Regions from separate parts of the Homo sapiens genome. Here region 2 is linked to region 1. Evidence: fine-mapped expression QTL. A gene starts in region 1. The other region holds a variant in brackets. All regions are shown on one strand. Distances are between the middles of the regions. Region 1 holds the start of TTLL11 (tubulin tyrosine ligase like 11). Region 2 overlaps TTLL11 (tubulin tyrosine ligase like 11).

Region 1 (10,462 bases):
TTCAAGCAATTCTCGTGCCTCAGCCTCTCAATACAATTTTTCACGAGCATAAAACAGTACAATGCCTTGCACATAACCCCTATTTAATAAACAGTAACTAATATTATACAAGTTGTAAGTAGGACAATATAGTAAGTGTATACTTGTTCTAAAGAAAGGCTGGATAAATTTCAGGGAACAATGCATGATTTGGAGTCTCTGAAACAAAGACTTTATACTATAATAGATCTCAGGACAGGGGCTTATTCAAACTATCATCAACAAAGGTCCCGCTATGAAATCTCTCAGGGCCCTCATTCACATTAGCTGGTGGCCATGGCACCACTGTGCACATAAACACAACCTACATCTCCAAAGAGGGCAGCTCACAACAAAAGTGGCGTCTACTCTCTATGGTGTCTTTCCTCTAAGGTGTTTTTTCATGAGGGTAGCAAAATGACAGAAGCATCCATGGGAGATGGGGAGTCTTCACAGGATGGGAAGAAGACCATACAAATCCATAAACATTGAGCATCTGCGGTGAACCAGAAACCATGCCTTTCTTTCATGTTGCAACATCAGTGGTGACTCTGTAAACATGATTTTGCTATTTGAGAGTAACTCCAGTCTTGTCTACAAGTTTACAGAGCTAACATCTGTGATCCTTCCCTTTCAGAAACAAATTTAACATTGTGGACGCAGTTAAATTAGACCTGGCCAGAACGGGTATGACTGCAAACTGAATCATCTGAGGGCTGGCATGGTTCACTTGGGACTGAAGGAGAGTGGGCAAGGGAGGCCGGGTCTATATATGGCAAGCAATCTGTGATTAAATTCAGTCAGAAGCGCAAGCTTCTTGGCATGGCCTTCACCATGCTCTGTGATCTGGCTTCTTCATCGCTCTCCACTCCCCCATATGCTCCCTCAGCTGCCATCATCCCATCCTGCATGTAAAACCTGGTCCATACTGCCTGCCTTGTTGTTCCTACTCTGTATGGAACATCCTTGAATCACTCACCTCCCAGACCAAACTGTAACTGTTTGTTTGCATGTATTCCTCCTCCTACACCAGGAGCTCCTGGAGGGCAAGGAGTGTATCCTGTTCACATCTACATCTGCGACCTCCAGCCCAGTGTTTACCAATAGAGAGCACAGAATTGAAGCCTGGTTTCAAATGGAATGCATATTTCAAATGCTAGCTCTGTCCCTTACTAGCTATGTGGCCTCAGGTAAGTTAACCTCTGTGTATTTCCATGTTCTCATATGTAGAACGGACACAATAAGGCATTTACTTTACTGAGCTGTTGGGAGAATCAAACAATTGTATATATGTAGAGCACTTAAAACAGCACCTGGAACAGAGTAAGAGCTATATAAAGATTTATTATCATGTTGTTGTTGTTGTTAAATATATGTGGAATAAGGAAAAGTGAAAAAGGAGCCAGGGGTGGTGGCTCACGCCTGTAATCCCAGCATTTTGAGAGGCCGAGGCAGGCAGATCACTTGAGGTCAGGAGTTCAAGACCAGTCTGGCCAACATGGTGAAACCCCATCTCTATTAAAAATACAAAAATTAGCCAGGGATGGTGACACATGCCTGTAATCTCAGCTACTCAGGAGGCTGAGGCAGGAGAACTGCTTGAACCTCTGAGGCAGAGGTTGTAGTGAGAGTGCAGTGAGCCAAGATAGCACCACTGCACTCCAGCCTGGATGACAGAACGACACCCTGTCTCAAAAAAAAAAAAAAAAAAAGTGAAAAAGGAAGCGAGATTGTGTGCCCTGCAGCTGAGCAAACTTCTGAATTCACATGCTGGCTCAGTCCTACCCTGTTAAAGTGGACGGTGATATATAGCTCCTCACTATGCACCCATAAAAGGAGACACAGCTCTCACTCTGGTTGGTGTTCATGACCTTATTTCTTACCTGGGCTACTCATCCACTCCCACCAAAGCCAGCCACCTGAGTACTCCCCAAACCCACAGCAACACAGCATGGGCTGCAAGAGATACTGTTGCTCACACCCTTGCACCACAGCCCCCAGTAGAAGTTCTTGCTCCTAAAACAGCGCTGGGAGTTCAAGATGATCTCATCCAATATCACCTCATAACAGATGGGGAAAGGCAGGCATAAGAAAGGTCATGTGTTTGCACTTTGTTAGTACCAGGGATATATATATATGTTAGTTTTCATGCAGTCAACTTTGTAGGAGGTACTAAGAATACTATAATCATAGTTTAAAGCAGGAAGGAACTTTAAAGTTTAGCTACTCTGGCACTTTTCAACCTCCACACTAGGGTGTCAAGATGTGATGTAAGCTCTCTTGCAAATATTCCATAATTCATTTGATGAATATTTATTGAGCACCTAGAATATGCTGTGCATTAGGGACATAAGTCAGATACCACCCCTGCCCTCAGGACTTCATGCAGTAATGAGGAAGGGTGACAGTAATAATCACAAGCCTAATAGTAGAGTCTTATTGTTGCAAGTGAATTGTTTTTTTAATTTTCAATATTTTTTTTAGAGACAGGGTCTTGCTCTGTCACCCAGGCTGGTGTGCAGTGGCACAATCATAGCTCACTGCATCCTTGAACTCCTGGACTCAAGTGATCCTCCCACCTCAGCCTCCCAAGTAGGTGGAATTACAGGCATGAGCCACCACATTCAGTGAATTATGTTTTAAAATATACTAGAATAAACATCTCCACCTATATGCCAATGTGTTCTCTGAGTGGGAAAAAAAGGGCAGGGTTGGAGGTGGAAGAAGCAGTTACAGGTAGTGCCTTGGAAAAAGCCTACCCACTGGGGGTGACCAGTGCAACAGTCTCATGTAGATCAACATTACCATTATGCGGCTACCGAAGTAGAGAGTAGATCAACATTACCATTATGCGGCTACCGAAGTAGAAAGACTGGAAACTGCTGAATTAGCTCTGTCCACCCCTACTTTACAGATAAGCAAACTGAGGCCTCAAGGGTTTAACTGACTTGCCCTGATAAATGGAAGAACATCAAAATTCTGTTAATGGCTCACATAGCCTTCCTCCCCAAAACAGGTCCAAATCCCATCGCATGGCACATGATCTGATCCCTGCTCATTTCTGAAGCCCCATCTCTTACCACTCCACCTCCCACGCTATGATCCGGCCATACTCAAAGTCCTGAAAGGGCCTCTGCTTTGCCCACACCACTCCTGCAACCAGGGATCCAAAGTCCATGACCCTAAATAACTCCAGTTCATTTTCAGCACTCACAACTCAGCTCGGGTTTATTTCCTCCAGGAAGTCCTTCCTGGGTGCCCCTCCTCTACCTCCCGCAGCATTTCTCCTTTCACACAGAAACACTCATCACATAATGTATTCATTCATTCAACGAATATTTATTGAGCAACTTCTGTGTGCCAAGTACCTGCGGGTACAGCAATAAACAAAACAAAGCCCCTGCCCTCATGGAGCTTACATTCTAGTGAGGGAAACGACAATAAACAAGCAATACATAATATAATGCCTGGCGAAGTTTAGTACTATGGAAAAAAAATAAATACCAAGGGCTGGAGATTGATGGGGAAGGTATCATCTAAAGAAGTGACAAGAGTAAGCCATGCAAATAAATGAAAAGGGAGAATTTCAGGATGCAGCAGCAATGTAATGACCTGTAATGACCGCAATTATTCCTTTACTTGTGTTTTATTCCCTATTGAACCATGAAGTCCTTGGGGGCAAGGGTCACATCTTAAGTATGTTTGGTTCCCAGGGCCCAGCAAAGAACTTGGCACCTCCAAAGTGGACATTTACGGAATGAGTGAACGAACCTGGGCTGGGATGTATTAGTCCATCTGGCCCCATCTCTCCGAGCAAACGAGATCTGGCCTGCTTTATGTCTCTCTCTCCCACAGGGATAAGCTAAGTGGAGGCCCCACTTGGGCCAATCTGCCTAGCCTGACTCCATAGCCTGGTTTTATTTGCTGGATTCTCCCTTCATTAAGACCACGGCACTGACAAGTTGTCCAGTTGTACCTTTTCTAGCCCTCATATCTCTGGCCTGGACCTGGGGCCCTGCCTAGAAACCCAGATACTTTAGAACTGAGAGCCTGCCTTTGTTTTCCCCAAGTTTCCCCAGCATGAAAGTTCCCCTCTGAATCCCAAGCCCCAAGGCTGGGGGCCCAGACACTTGGAGTCAAACTTCCCCAACGGCTACACCCTATCCACCTGGAAGTCGGTTCTGCCTGATCCTTGACTTCCCTCCAAACCAAATGCACTTTTTCCTATTGGGACATCAACCCTCTGACCACATCAGTCCTTTCTGTGGCCATCTCTCTGTATGTTCCAACTTAATGAAACCATTACCGAGCATCTACCATAGCCAAGGCACAGGGCTAAGAACCTGAGTCCTCTGTTACCCGCAGCAGATCCCTGTTACCACTGGCTGTGTCCACACTCAGCTATCCTTAATCAAACTCCTGACACTCCTGAAAGCACATTAAATACCTTATATGCTGCAAATAAAGTCAAATGGCTTTATCCACGTAGCCAATTGCAACAGACACCTCTAGAGTCACTGGTGCTACATTCCATCCCCTGCCAGTCTAAAATGGGCTCAGGGATGATAACTCATGTATTCATTCACCCTTTCATTCACTGCTTACTGACACATGCCGTAAGCCAAGCCTGGAATATAAAATACAGTGCCTGATTTTATACCACTGATCATGAGGACAGTGGTGGTGCTGGTGGTGGTGATGGTGATGATGGTGGAAGAAGAGAGAAAGGAGAAGGTGGTAACGTAAGTTACCATTTATTGCAGACTTGTGCTATAAAACACTAAGTAGTGAGTCTTCTAATGCTAACAAGATGATGAGATAAGTATAATTGGCCTCACTTTACAGAGAAGGTAATAGGCTGAAGAGGTGAAGCAACTTACTCAAGGTCACACAGCTAAGTAGCAAAGTGTAGTGAGACCCTAGGCCTGTCTGCCTCCAAAATAAAAAGTGTTCCTCTGCCCAAGAGTCACACAGCAAGTGCTAAACAAATATAACTTCAATGAAGAAGTGAGAGAGCGGGTCCGGGGCCCCAGGGGCTTACAAGCTGGTGGAGGAGACAGACGTACACATATCTACAAGCAGAGGCAAATGCTGATGGCTGAGACATAAAAAGAGCTGCAGGGAGGCAGAGGAGTGAGTGGCTAACTTGACCTGGAGGGGTCTGGGGGGCCCTCTTGGAGGAAGTGATTTTGGGGGGTAGGCCTTGAAGGATGAGCACTTTGCGGCTGACAAGCAGGCCCGAGCGTGGTGCACCGCAGGAGCTCAGCCCTCGCCCGCCGACCTGACCTGGGCCGTGCCGAGACCTCTGAGGTCGTCCTGTCCACCCCACTGTGCCCACGCGGCCGGGTCGGGCCGGGCCTCACCTCCTTCCACTTGAGCTGGCGGATGCTGATCTTCAGGGCATCCAGGGAGGTCCTGGCCTTGGAGCTGTCCACGGTGACCGGCCGCTGGGAGCCGTTCTCGCCGGAACCGTGGCCCGAGCTCCGCTTGCAGCTTCGGCCCTTGTCCCGGGGCTTCCCGTGCGGGCAGAGGCCCTGCACCGGCTTCGGCTTGGACGGGGGCAGCGTGGGCGGCGGCCGCTGAAGGACCTGGGTGTTCCCCTCCTCAGCCGCACTGGGCTGCGCCGGGGCCGGGGCCAGGACCTTGGGCTGCTCCTCCCCTGCCTTGCACTCCGGTTCCCCGGCCGCGCCCGCGTCCACGCGGACCTGTTCCGCCACCGTCTCCGCTGTGGCCTCGGCCTCAGCTTTGGCCGCCGCTTTGGCCGCAGCCACCGCCTCCGCCTCCCACCGGGCCGCCAGCTCGCTCTCGGAGCTGCCCCGCCGCATGGTGCTCAGGGCCGGGGCCAGTGCCAGTGCCACCGCCGCCGCCGCCGCCGCTCCGCCGCCCCAGTCCGCCACCAAACTGCCGCCGCTGCAGCCGCTGCCACGCGTTCCCCGCCCGAGCCCGTTGCCATGATCGCTCAGGCTCGGGTTGACAGCGGCAGTCACCGCATCGAGACGGGGTCCGGGAAGGGACAATCGCCGGCCGAGCCCCAGCGACCTCATAGGCGAGGCTGCCCACGTGACCCTGCCTGTCACAGAGGCAGCGGCGGCCATGTTGGAAGAGGGCAAAGAGCCGCCAGGACCCGCCCACCCCGCGGATGCGCTGGATCTCGAGGGCGCAGAACTCGGAGTGGCGAGGAGAAGCGGGAGGGCAGATTGAGCGCGCGTGGGGCTCGTGAGCCTGGGGACTGGGAGTAAAAACAACTACCTCAAGCAGGAGGCTCAGTCCCCGCCAACACTCGCTGGGATAACTCTCGATAGGACGGAGGAGGAGCCCCCCAGTGGGACCCTCCTCAGTGCAATGGATGGGACCCTCCTCAGTGCAATGGATGGGACCCTCCTCAGTGCGATGGATGTGAGCAGCCCAGGCCCTAGGGGAGCAGAGAGTGTTCCGCTGAAGAAACCCTCTGCTGGTCCTTTGAGCGCCCCCAGATAAGAGGGGAGGCACTTTTCCCTGTTCTCAGGGAGCTCCCGATGGGATGGGGAAGTCATGGGCATGGGTAAGCCCCCTATAGATTCCCACTCGAGTTGAGGATATTAACGATTTTTTCTTTTTCTTTTCTTTTTTTCTTTTTTTTTTTTTTTTTTAGACAGGGTCTCTCTCTGTCGCCCAGGCTGGAGTGCAGTGGCGCGATCCCGGCTCACTGCAGCAGCCTCAACTTCCAGAGCTCAAGGGATCCTCCCACCCCAACCTCCCGAGTAGCTGAGACTACACGAATGTACCACCACTCCCGGCTAAGTTTTGTGTTTCTCGTAGAAACGTGGTTTCGCCATGTTGCCGAGGCTGTTCTCAAACTCCTGACCTCAGGTAATCTGCCAGCCTCGGCCTCCCAAAGTACTAGGATTACAAGCAGAACCACCGCGTCTCTTGTTTTCTTTTTTGTTTTTGTTTTTGTTTTGTTGTTGTTGTTGATGTTGTTACAGAGTTTCGCTCTTGTCGCCCAGGCTGGGATGCAATGGTGTGATCTCGGCTCATTGCAGCCTCCGCCTCCCGGCTTCAAGCAATTCTCCTGCCTCAGCCTTGTGAGTAGCTGGGATTGCAGGAGCCGGCCACCATGCCCGGCTAATTTTTTGTATTTTTAGTATAGACGGGGTTTCACCATCTTGGCCAGGCTGGTCTCTAACTCCCGACCTCAGATGATCCACCCGCCTCAGCCTCCCAAAGTGCTGAGATTACAAGCGTGAGCCACCACGTCCAGCCTGACTGCTTTTACTTATATCACTTTTTTTGTTGTGGTAAAATATAACAAAATTTGCCATTTTAACCATTTTTAGTGTACAATTCAGTGGCATTCTGTATACTCACATTGTTGTGCAACCAGCACCACTATGGGTCTCCGGAACTCTTTTATCTTACCAAACTGAAACTTTGTGTCTATGAAACAATAAGTCGGGATTCCCTTCTCTCCTAGTCCCTGGGAACCACCATTTCTACTTTCTGACTATGAATTTGACTATTCCTGGTTCCTCATGTCAGTGGAATCATACAGTATTTGTCTGGCTTATTTCACGTAGCATAATGTCCTCAAGGTTTCTCCATGTTGTAGCATGAGTCCAAATTTCACTCATTTTTAAGACTGAAAAATATTTCGTCGTGTGCATACACCACCTCGTTTTTATCCATTCATCTGTCAATGGACTTAGGTTGTTTCCACCTTTTGGCTATTGTGAAGAATGTCGGTTAACATTGGTATACAAATACCTGTTTGAGCCCCTGCTTTCCATTTTTGGGAGTTGCCATCATTTTAAAGCCAAACCAAGGAGAAAGCTCTCCCCTCCCACCTGAGGGAGCCGCATTTGTTTTTTTAGGAAGTGGGGTTGAGAAGGTGTAACAGCACCCCAGACTGACCACAGCGGCCACGACTGCACACAGGGGAACTTTGCCTCGCTCGACACTACAGGGTGAAAGAAACACAGAAGTTGTCAAGGAACGTGGCCCCTCTTCCTCTCTCATCTCTCCAGGTGTCTTGTTTCTTTGCTTTAGTCCAGGGGTTTCACTTGCTGAATAAACTGCCTTGAAATGTCCAAGTCATAAACTTAAGAGATCCAAACCTCCTTTTTAGCAGCAGAGGGCGCTCGCATCTGTTCCCTTCATGACTTTGTTTCAGAGTTTCTGTAAGCATGGTCGTCTGGCCACTTGCATGGGAACAACCCGGGGTGTTTATTTAAAATGCAGGCTCCTGGACCCCACCCCCAGAGACTGTGATGCAGCACATCTGGGTGGACCTGGGAATCTGCATGTTAAATTAGCTCCTCCGCTGATTCTAAGGCAGCGGAGGCAAGAACCACTCATAGAGTCTGATGCAAGTCCTCTGGAAATTCTTGGAGCTGTCCGTGGTATCAGTAAGAAGGCCTCACTGTCCCCCCATTTCTCTCCACAAACCTACCCCCCAAATCCTGTCCCTCCTCCTGGTGTCCTTGATCTCAGCAAGTGGCACTACCTTCATTCAGTCATCCATGCTTGAAATTTGCCGAGATCGCGCCACTGCACTCCAGCCTGGGCGACAGAGTGAGACTCGGTCTCAAAAAAAAAAAAAAAAAAAAAAAAAAAACATATATATATATATATATATATATATATATATATATATATATATATATAAAAACTGGGCATGATGGCATATGCCTGTAATCCCAGCTACTCGGGAGGCTGAGGCACAAAACTCATGAACCCAGGAGGCAGAGGCTGCAGTGAACTGAGATCGCGCCACTGCACGCCTAGGGCAACAGAGCGAGACTCATTCGAGAGAGAAAAAGAGAGAGAGAGAGAGAGATCTCCTCTTTCCTCTCTTATCTATCTCTATCATCACCACCCCAATTCAGGCTTCTGCTGATAGCTCACCTCCAGCTCTGCCACACACCCACCCATTCTCCACACCAGACCTGCCACTCTCCTGCTTAGAAACCTCCCCTGGTTTGTCACCATCTACAGATAAAGTCCAAGAACATTGATTGTCCTAAGAGGCCCTTCCTGATTACAATTTCTGAAATCAACCCCTCTCCCTGCCTCCATGCCTTTGTAAACATTGTTCCTTCTGTCTGGACTTCCCTTCCTTCATGTCTGTTCTTAGACAAACTTTTCCCAGTGCCTCAGGCAGAAATAGTTACTCTCTGTGCTCTTCTATTCACACCCATAATTCTCATCCACAACTCTCAACCCTGGTCTGTCTGTCACACTATCTAGAAATCATCTCAGCCTCCACCATTAGTCTGGGCAAGAACAAATCTTGTCTGATTCATCTCTGTATCCCCATCTCTTGGGTCTTGGAACACAGTGGCCCTTGCTTTGTTCATGGTAGTATGAACAAAGTAGTATGGATGTATTAATGAATGAGTCATTTTCAGCCTCATATGTCAAATCTGTAAGGACAATCCCATATAGAAATATTCATTTTGGCTTCACATCCCGAGACCTCTTCTGCCTCAGGGCCTTTGCACATGCCCTCTGCCTTTCTTTAGATCTCTGGCTACTGCTCCTTCATTATTCAGTGTAAATGATACATCTGCACAGATACCTCTGATCTCTTCATCTAAGTCAGACTTATTCAGATGAAATAATTATGCAAGAGAGGAAAATAGGAGGTGTCATGAGGGAGTATATGATTAAGTGCCAATGAGGCAAAGAGTAAAAAATAAAATTCATCCAGTAGCTCAAGAAATAGAGAATTTACTGTGAATTAGAAAGCTAGACCAGGCTTCCTATAAGAGAGAGACTATAAGCTGAGTCTTCGAGGTGGAGTAGGAATCAGGTTGATAGAAAGCTAGGTGGGGTGGTCACTGAAGAGCTATGGATAGGGCTGCTGCAGTCATGCAAGAGGCCTTGCGGGCGTTGAAATCCAATGTGTGCAAAGCCTCACCCATCATGGCTTTGGCCATGGGATGGGGGTGCTTTTGCCCATTGGCTTAAAGACTCCCAGGGCTCATGGAGGCCCTGTACTGAGAGGGAAGATGAAGAAAAGGTGAAGCAAGATTTAAGAAGGGGATAATCATCTGCTTCTTCAAGAGGGCAGGGAGCAGACTGGACCAGTTGAAATACAAGCCTCTGAGCAAGGGAGAAAAGAAAGGAAACAAGGCCCACTTGAGCCCGACTGTCAGGTCTTTGAATACCATGGCACCCTTGACTTCTCAGGAAATTCTAAAATGTGTTAGTGGAAAATCCAAACCCACATGAGACTTCTTCAAGAAAAGCTTTAGCTGTGTCTGCTAAGAAGCAAAAGCAGGTTAGATTTCAGGACTAGGATTACTTCCAAAAAATACACAAATGTGAAAATAAAGTTCTCCGGGAGTTCTCTCCTTTTCCTTCCCAGCACTCACCATAGTTTACAGTTGGAGTGTTACTTGTTTGTTTACTTGTTATAGCCTGTCTTGCCAGCCAGAGTCTGGGTGCCAGAATATAAAGGGTG
Region 2 (10,462 bases), 52 kb before region 1:
CTCCAGGCCCTGTCCCCTTTCCCTAAGCAGCTGCAGCGCCTGACCCCTCGTCACCTGTGTCCCCTCCCTGGGCTCTAGGACCAATTCTGAACTGAGATCGAAGCTCTAGGTCTAACCCCCAGCTCCCTTCTGCTAAAAGTCTGACCTAGACTATGTATTCCAACCAGATAAGAAGGATTTTACCCATTTTTCCGGTGTTCTATTGCTTGTATCCAAATGTTGGTGACCTTATCTTTTGCTCCTGGAGCCTGAGTGGCTGCCTTAGCAATGCAGAGCTGCGTCCTTTTCTTTGTTCTCTCCAATGCCCCTCCTCTCTCCAACCTCTCCTCTGTTCCCCTCAAGCCCACCCTGCAAGGGCTGGAATCCTCCTGTCTGTGACTTTCACCCAGTGTCTGGGGTCCTGCTACCTAACAGCTCCTTTTGAGGTTGACTGCCCACCTAGGTTTCTCAATAAGGTCTATCCCTAGATGTCCCTATGAGGGCAGTTCCCCTATCGATTGGGAAAACCTCCTAATTCAGGTGGGAGTTTCTGACACCAAGGGCTTACCTCCTGCCCCTCCTTCTGAGGCCTGGGCTTTTCTGTCTGCTACGCTGGAGTCTCAAGGCCTGGTGGGTCTCACCCCATTCAAGTTAACTGACAGCATAACAGTTCAACCTCAGGTTTGCCCATGCAGCCCTACTTAACCCAGTTAATGTAAAACAAAACAAACTAAAACTGAGCTATACTTGGAGCACTATTCAATCAAAATATTATTTATAACAATAATTCTTGGCAAAAACATATTAGAACCACCAAACAACAAATAAATCCTTTCAGATCCATCCTGTTCTCTCTATTCTGATTGCCACTAATTCATTCATCTCTTGGGTGGATGCTGCAGCAGACTCTTAGCTACATCTCTGTTTCTTCTCTGAGCCATCTCATTTCTAATGTGTCCCTCTGGCTGATCTTGCTAACATGCAAGCTGACCCGTGTCACTGTCTGGCTTAAAAATTCCTCAGTGGCTCCCTATGACCTTCAGGCTCTAACAATGCTGTAGTTGGGTTCCTACTCATCACCCCTCCCCTGCCCTGCTCACCTGACGCCCTCTAACCATGGTAGGCCACTTGCCCTTCGATGAACGAGTAATATGCTGAAGGCATTCTGTCTTTGCACCAACTCTGCTCCCTTGTTTGGCATGGGGATCAGGCCCATCCATCCTGGAGGCTCAGTTTCCATGCCAGTCCTGTTCTCCAGGAGCTCTCACCCTGCTGCTCCCTGGGCAAATCTGGGTTAGGTTGCCCGCCCTTGCTCCGGACCCCCACAGCATTCCAGCTTCCTCCAGCAAAGCCCCTAGGCTGTATTTTTCTTCTCTCTTTACATGCCTTTCTCTGTGTCTTTATAGCCCCAGAGCCCAGACCAATGCTTGACAGATGGCTGTCCCCACAGGTTCCTCACTGAAGCTCCCTCCCTCTCCAGCAGAAAGCCCCCTCCTCAGGTGGGCTCTCAGGTACCACCTGCCATGTGATGCCATACATCTCAGACCCTGAAACTCAGCAAAAGACCTGCTCAGAACCTGAGAATGGACAGTTTTGGACTTTCTTAAAGCTAAATCTGATATGTCTAATCTGACATGTCTGATTTAGATACGTCTAAAGAAAGTAGACATATCTAATAATCTACTTTCTTTAGACGTATCTAAATCAGATTATTTTCATAGAAAGTCTTAATTCATCAGCCAAAATATAATAATGTAATTTGAACCAGGAAATTACCCATAGAAAAGTGACTAAAATCTAATGTGCTGACACAAACAAAATTAATCACTTCCATCTGTATATATCCGTTCTCAGTTGACCCAGCAAATAAAGCGTTTACACTTGCCTGGGATATCCACTAGAACTTACCCTAAGTAATATACAATGTATAGAAAGTGCATTTTAGAATAATGAGATATATGAGAGACAGAAGATAAGCTTGGACACAAACTGGTATCAGAGGCCAGACTGTTCTGGAATTACCCCTCTGCTGAGGATTACTACCTTTCACAGGGTAGAGGGTGTGGCAGCACTGTTCCTCTGCCTAGAGGTTTAAGAGTCTGCTTTGTCATTAGAACTAATTAATTTCTGTTAATAATGTGGAAAAGTCTATGTTCCAATCACCGGCATGTGGAATATGGGATGGGGCAAACTTGCTTCTTTGGAATGAATATCATTCTATCACCTTTATGAAACTAATCCTTTGTGGGTACTTCATTCTATATTTCTAATTTGTATTCCAAATGTAGATCTATAGCTACTTCTTTCCTACTCTGAGACACTAGATGAGGCATGAGCAAATGGGGAAAATGTAAATGAGGCCTCATTTGATGATTCATGTCTTAGGAACTCTGTCCTCATTCAAAGCGTTTTCTCTTCCAAACTGTATTCTCCCAATATCCTAATAAGTCCTTTAAGTGGCATCACAAAGCATCCTTTTCTGAGCAGCAAGACACAAAAAATAATAGCTATCCCATTAAACTGTTGGGTAAGAACTCTGGCTGCAAGAATCATTCTTGTTCTGTAACAAAACCCTTTCTCCTTCTCTAAGGATAAATTTGACCTTGGGTTAACTTTCTATCTCAGTTCCCCTAGAAAACAATGAAGGTAGAATGTTAGCTGAATTACTAGGCCACAAAGCATATGGTTAAAATGATCCCTGATTTGGTAAATTGCATAGATATCTAGTAGAAAGTCATTGCTCTAGGCTTTTCTGAGTGCGATGATTCTTGTAACTTAATATGACCCTTGCTTGGACCTTAGAAGGCATACTATGGAGCAGTTCTAAAAGATACTGGATTCTGTGGGGCATCTAAGCCAAGAAAGACTCATATCCACCAATGTGGATCTTGTCCTTTTGCACCTGAGCTTTCACTTGAGGAGCCAGAGACTAGTCTCTGGAACTCTTGCAAATACTCCACTGAAGAGAAATGCTTGACACTGACTGTCCAGCAAGCCGTGTTTCCTGCCCTGTATCCTTCTAAGTGAATCTGAGCTAAGTGTGGCCTATGGTAGTGAACTTGTAAGACTGCATGCTTAGGTGAAAACCCCTAGTGGATGTGGCATAACTACCACCCCCTGTATAACGTATGGCTATTGTGTTTTCTGCAATGCGTTTTCTTAAAGACGTGGGATAGAATGTCAAGGAAACAGTAAATTGATTCTCCCTTTAAAATAGGTAAAATTGATAAAATACTAAGAGAAAACACCCTATATTTAGGCAACTACACTAGGACTGCAACCATGCAAAAAGGATGAGTAAACTTGCTTAAGGTTTGGGAGGAAATATAGAAATATTCATATTGCTGTTTTGTTAAATGAGATATGGGATTCAGGGTGATGTTCTTTTTAGAAAGTATTTATTATGGCATTATAATATGGTCTGTGTAATATATTAACATTTTAAAAAATAAGTGGAAGGCCCTTTGACTGCATCATACCCAGCTTAATCCAGTGCTCCTTCTCCCTAAGCTGTCCTACCATCTTAAATATCCTCTTCATTCAGCCATCAAAAATAATGAAGAGACCCGGTACAGTGGCTCACGCTTGTAATCCCAGCACTGTGGGAGACTGAGGCAGGTGGGTCACTTGAGGTCAGGAGTTCGAGACCAGCCTGGCCAACGTGACATGGCAAAACCCTGTCTCTACTAAAAATACAAAATTAGCCGGGTATGGTGGTACAGGCCTGTAATCCCAGCTACTCGGAAGGCTGAGGCAGGAGAATTGCTTGAACCTGGGAGGCAGAGGTTGCAGTGAGCCAAGATCGTGCTGCTGCTCTCCAGTATGAGTGACCAAGCGAGACTCCATCTCAGAAAAGTGGTAGAGATTAAAATGCAAAACAAAAAAGTTGTATTGGGAGGTTGGTAGTGGAGTGAGAGGGATATCTTAGTGCTGGCTATGATGCTTTTCTAGCACTAAGATTTCTCCTTGCAGGATAAGTCTTGCTGAGATAATGTCATTAGGTAAAAGGCAGAGGCTGTGTGCAGCCTGTAGTACTTAATATGGAGACCAGTATATTTGGTTTTAAAAATGGTACCTCCAAATATAATACTTAAAGAAAAGGGAAGCTGATACCCCATTTCTATGACATATGCCTAGAATTTTGGTGCTTTTGTTTCCCGCAAGAATGAAATGTTCTATTATTTTTTCATTTTCAGAATATATTCCTCTCATTAGAACCCCATATTATATGCATAACCCAAAAAGTGGAAACCATGTTCTTCCACCAGTGGCATTAGACCAAGAAAGCCTGCCTTTGAACCTTTAAAAGCCTGTCTCCAATCCTTAAAACCTTAATGGCTAGTGAACACAGCAATTCCCAATTAAGAGTCCTCAAATCTGATCTCAAAAATAACTGTCATGTTTTAGTAGAAGAGTGTATCTGAGACTTGGCCCTAGAAACATGTTTAAATGTCAACAATAACAGCAGATACCTGGAAACTTGTTCACTTGACCGGAGAATATGTCATTGTCGTGAAATGAAACTCCATGCCAGTAGATGTCACAAGGCAAGCGCCGGCCAAATGGGAACTAGAAGAGAAAAAATGTGACTCGCAATAAGAATAAGAAGAGCAGTGACCACACTGAGTATCCATTATGTACAAATTCCTGGCACCCTGGTGTACTTACCATGGTTTAATCCTTATAATACGCATATGAGGTAAGTGATATTCTTTGCCATTTTACAGATGAGGAAACAGATTCAAACAGGTTTAATAACTTGTTCCAAGTGGTAGAGCTCTGATTACATGTGGCAGATACTACACTCCTGGCTTTGCAGGCACCATTTCACTTTAATCCTTATAACTACCCTATAAAGGATTACTCCCATTTTGCTGATTCAAAACTTGGGGCTGACAGAGGTAATTTAACATGCCCAAGGGTCACACAGAGCTGGTAAGGGGAGGAACCAGGATTAGAGTCCAGGTCTATCCAAATTCCAAGCCCATACATCCCTTCCTCTGAAAATTACAACCCTCAACCGAGCCCAAAAGAATAAGCTTTCAGAGTCCCTCTTCCCTTATCTCTCTCTCTCTCTCTCTCTCTCTCACACACACACACACACATACACACACACATATGCTCCATGAGGGTAAGATGAATCCCAGGGCCTAAAACAGTTCCCCAAACTCGTAAAGACTTCCTGAATTAATAAATGAACAAATCAGGAGTGGTCATCTGACTCAAGATGAGATAACCAGATTCTCTCTTCCAGGAATCTGGAAATCAGAGATGCCAGGCAGCCTCTGCTGGCCCTTGAACTGGCAGGGATAAAAAGCCAGGGCAGGGCAGCTGTGCTTGGCTATGTGCACAGGAGCAGAGACAGCCAGTCTGCTGAGAGACAAGAAAGGAGCAG[G/A]TGTGGGAGGGAAAGCAGAGATGAGACAACATAGCCCTAGAAACTCAGACTGAGTGGCCTCAGACCCGCGTGAGCCTGTAAGATAGCCTTGTATCCTGAGAATACCTTTTTGGTCTTCTAAAATCTTGTTTGGCACAAGCTATAGAGTTTCAATTATTTGAAGCCAGAAAATTTCTCACCGAGACAAAAGGGCCTGTTCTTTCCACTACATCCTGTTGCTTCTCAAAGTTATCAACAAGCTCTGCATTTAATGAACATATTTTTTAAATCTGTAACTCAGATGACCTTGTTAAAGGAGAAAAGAGAGGCCATGTTAGTTCATATTCAGAATTTGCTTGTTAAAAGTGCACACAAATAGATATGCCAACATATTAAATAAAAATCTTTTGATTTTCCCATTCTAGGACTATAGGTAATCAGAATTTTTATCTACTTCAAGTTGAGGGGCCAAGGTCCAATGGAAGAACATAGCCTTACTAATGAAATGGTGGTGACTCAATGCTTTCCATACATTCCACATTAAAATGAAGCCAGCCTCAAGTCATTTAAATCAGTCACATTATTTCAAAGCTGTGCACAATGAGGCATATGTTGTACACTCTACTCACATTAACAACTTCCATCTATAATTTACAGCATTTTGCTCATTTTCTTTTTATGCAATGGGCTGTAAGTTATTAATTCAGTACTCATAAATACAATGAGATACAACATATGTTATTTTCTTCTAGCTGTTAAGTGCTAATATAGAGAAGGAGAAAATAACCAGAATTAAGCAGGCTATCCGAGCAAAGGGTAAAGTGGCTTTGCTTTGTTGCCCACAATGAGGAACCAACACCTTGTCAGTGGGCAACCCAATGACTCTTATCTCCTTTTTCATCACTCTTCAATGCTTACCACCCTCATGAATACCAAATTGCCCCCCCTTTTAGAGGCACCTTTAGCTCATTCAGTTTTGAGAAACTACCATTTTTAAAAACATGTCCATTCACTCAGTAATTATTATATGCCAGACTAGGTGCTAGGAATATGGGGGATATAATTTTAATTAAGTCCCAGGATTTCATAATCCTACCTCTTTTTAAGCTCCTTTAAAAACTGTCCGCTTACACAGCTAACATCATACTCAATGGTAAAATACTAAAAGCTTTAAAGCTTTTCCACCATGATCAGGAATAAGACAAAGATGCCCACTTTTATTTTACATCAACATAGTATTATAAATTCTAGCCAGAATAGGCAAGAGAAAGATATAGAAGGTGTCCACATTAGAAAATAAGAAGCAAAATTATCTGTTTGTTGATGACATGATCCCATATGTAGAAAACTCTAATGATTCCACAGAAAAATATTCAAAGTAATAAACAAATTCAGCAAAGTTGCAGGATACAAAATCAACACATAAAAATCAACTGTGTTTCATACATGATGAGGAGCAATCCAAAAAGGACCTTTTTTTAAAAGAATTCCATTTATAATAGCATCAAAAAGAATAAAATACTTAGGAATTAACCAAAAAGGTGAAAGACTTGTACACTGAAAACTATAAAATATTTGTAAAAGAAATTAAAGAAGATATTAATACAAATAAACAGAAAGATATCCTATGCTCATAGACCGGAAGAGTTAATATTGTTAGGATGTCAATACTACCTAAAATGGTCTACAGATGCAATGCAGTCTCTATCAAAATCCCAATAACTTTTTTTCAAAATAAAAAAATCCATCCTAAAATTCATATGGAATTACAAGGGACCCCAAATAGCAAAAACAATCTTGAAAAAAAAAAAAAGAACCAAGTGGAGTTCTCATACTTCCTTTTTTTTTTTTTTTGAAACAGAGTCTTCTTCCATCACCCAGGCTGGAGTGCAGTGGTACAATCTCAGCTCACTGCAACCTCTGCCTCCTGGATCAAGTGATTCTTTCTCTTCTGCCTCAGCCCCCCGAGTGGCTGGGATTACTGGCACATGCCAGCGCACCCAGCTAATTCTTGTATTTTTAGTAGAGGCTGGGTTTTGCCATGTTGGCCAGTCTGGTCTCAGGCCATCCACCTGCCTCGGCCTCCCCAAGTGCTGGGATTAAAGGCGTGAGTCACTGCGCCCAGGCTGGAGGTCTCACATTTCCTGATGCCAAAAACAAAGCTACAGTAATCAAATAGTGTATACAATCACAATGAGATACCACCAGCACCTATTACAATGGCCAAAGTCCAAAACACTGACATACCAAATGCTGGCAAGGACGTCGAGCAACAGGAACCCTCATTCCTTTCTGGTGGAAATGCAAAATGGTAAAGCCACTTTACAAGGCAGTTTGGCAGTTTCTTACAAAACTAAACATACTCTTATTATATAATCCAGCAATTAGTTCTCCTCGGTATTTATCCAAATGGGTTGAAAAACTTATATCCACACAAAAATCTGCACATGAATGTTTATAGCAGCTGTATTCATAACTGCCAAAACTTGGAAGCAGCTGAGATGTCCTTCAGTAGGTGAGTCCTTCTGTAGGTGAGTAGATAAATAAACTACAGTATATCCAAACAATGAAATATTATTCAGTGCTAAAAAGAAATGAGCTGTCAAGCCACAAAAGACATGGAGGAATCTTAAATGCATATTACTAAATGGAATAAGTCAATCTGAAAAAGCTACATACTGTATGATTCCAACTAAACTACATTCTGGAAAAGGCAAAACTACAGAGACAGTAAAAAGATCAGTATTTGCCAGGGGCCCGAGGGGAGGAAGAGATGAATAGGTGAAGTACAGAGGATTTTAGAGCAGTGAAAATACTCTGTGTGATACTATAATGGTAGATACATGTCATTATACATTTTTCAAAACCCATAGAATAGCACCAAGAGTGAAGAGTAATGTAAACTATGGACTTTGGGTGATGATGACATGTCAGTGTAGTTTCATCAGTTGTAAAAAACACACCACTCTGATTCAGGATTTTGATGGTGGGGGAGGCTATCAATGCAGGTGGGGGAAAATCTCTGCACCATATGCTCAATTTTGCTGTGAACCAAAAATGCTTTAAAAATGAAAATAAAAACAAATGAAAAAAATCAGTGTGGTACTGGCATAAAGACAGATATAGAGGACAGTGGGATAGGATAGCTCAGAAATAAAGCCTCTCAGGTGTGATCAAATGATTCTCAACAAGGATGACAAGACTATTCAATAGGGAAAGGGCAGTCTTTTCAACAAGTGGTGCTGGGAAAACTGAATATCCACGTGCAAAAAGAATGAAGTTGGACCTTTACCTTATACCATATACAAAAATTAACCCAAAATAGATCAAAGGCCTAATCATATGAGCCAAATCAAAGGCCTAATCATATGAGAAAAGCTTCATAACACTAGAAATACAGAAAATATAGGAGAAAAGCTTCATAACACTAGAAATATAGAAAACATAGGAGAAAAGCTTCATAACACTGCATTTGGCAATGATTTCTTGGATATGACAACGTAAGCACAGCCAACAAAAAACAAAATAGGTAAATCAAAGATAAAAATTAAAAACTTTTTTTCATCAAAAGACACTATGAACAGAGTGAAAAGGTAACCCACAGAATGGCAGAAAATATGTGCAAAATCATATATTTGATAATAGATCAATAGTCAGAATATATATATATTTTTTTCTTTTCTTTTTTTATTTTATTATTATACTTTAAGTTTTAGGGTACATGTGCACAACGTGCAGGTTTGTTACATATGTATACATGTGCCATGTTGGTGTGCTGCACCCATTAACTCGTCATTTAGTATTAGGTATATCTCCTAATGCTATCCCTTCCCCCTCCCCTCATCCCACAACAGTCCCCGGTGTGTGATGTTCCCCTTCCTGTGTCCATGTGTTCTCATTGTTCAATTCCCACCTACGAGTGAGAACGTGCAGTGTTTGGTTTTTTGTCCTTGCGATAGTTTGCTGAGAATGATGGTTTCCAGCTTCATCCATGTCCCTATAAAGGACATGAACTCATCCTTTTTTATGGCTGCATAGTATTCCATGGTGTATATGTGCCACATTTTCTTAATCCAGTCTATCATTGTTGGACATTTGGGTTGGTTCCAAGTCTTTGCTATTGTGAATAGTGCCGCAATAAACATACGTGTGCATGTGTCTTTATAGCAGCATGATTTATAATCCTTTGGGTATATACCCAGTAATGGGATGGCTGGGTCAAATGGTATTTCTAGTTCTAGATCCCTGAGGAATTGCCACACCGACTTCCACAATGGTTGAACTAGTTTACAGTCCCACCAACAGTATAAAAGTGTTCCTATTTCTCCACATCCTCTCTAGCACCGGTTGTTTCCTGACTTTTTAATGATCGCCATTCTAACTGGTGTGAGATGGTATCGCATTGTGGTTTTGATTTGCATTTCTCTGATGGCCAGTGATGATGAGCAGAATATATTTTTAAACTCCTACAACTCAACAATGAAAAAACACTTACAAAATGGACAAAAGTCCTGAATAGACATTTCTCCTAAGATATACTAATGGCCAATGAGCATATGAAAAGATATTTAACATCATTAATCATTTAAAAAATTGCAAATCAAAATCATAAGAAACTGCTTCATACCCATTAGGATAACTATTATCAAAAACAGGCTGGGCGAGGTGGCACACACCTGTAATCACAGCACTTTGGGAGGCTGACGCGGGAGGAGTTCAAGACCAGCCTGAGCAACATAGCAGGGCCCCCATCTAACAAACAACAACAACAAAATACCTGAAAAATTAGCTGGGCATCGTGGCATGCCTGTAGTCCCAACTACTCGGGAAGCTGAAGCAGGAGGATTGCTTGAACCCAGGTGTTTGAGGCTATAGTGAACTATGATTGCACCACTGCTCTCCAGCCTAGATGATAGAGACCCTATCTAAAAAAAAAGAAAAAAAATCACAGGACCTAAGTGTTGACAAGTATATAGAGAAATTGGAACCCTTGCACATTAAGAATATAGAAAGCTGCTGTAGTTAAAAAAAAAAATCACTGGCTGATTGATCTAGCAATTCCAGTTCTGGGTGTATCCCCCAAAAGAATTGAAAGCAGGCTGGGCGCAG

Evidence for each region. PIP is the estimated chance that this variant, and not a neighbour inherited with it, causes the effect.
Region 2: its variant is fine-mapped to the expression of TTLL11 in skeletal muscle (GTEx, PIP above 0.99).

Annotation. Positions count from the first base shown.
Region 1 is chr9:122,087,306-122,097,767 of GRCh38, forward strand. It overlaps TTLL11 (tubulin tyrosine ligase like 11), which reads right to left and starts at 6,003. Exons shown (of 9, transcript NM_001139442.2): 1 at 5,382-6,003. The coding sequence starts at 5,843. LOC124902262 (a long non-coding RNA gene) reads left to right here. Exons shown (of 3, transcript XR_007061755.1): 2 at 1,052-1,208; 3 at 3,732-3,974. LOC124902263 (a long non-coding RNA gene) reads left to right here and starts at 6,827. Exons shown (of 2, transcript XR_007061757.1): 1 at 6,827-6,867; 2 at 7,869-8,095. RefSeq lists enhancers at 5,531-6,244, 5,994-6,183 and a silencer at 5,594-5,643.
Region 2 is chr9:122,034,821-122,045,282 of GRCh38, forward strand. It overlaps TTLL11 (tubulin tyrosine ligase like 11), which reads right to left. Exons shown (of 9, transcript NM_001139442.2): 2 at 4,452-4,548. Among named protein-coding and RNA genes, the nearest start is that of TTLL11, 53 kb to the right of the region's middle. RefSeq lists an enhancer at 4,107-5,306. The variant G/A (reference allele first, on the strand shown) is at 5,375.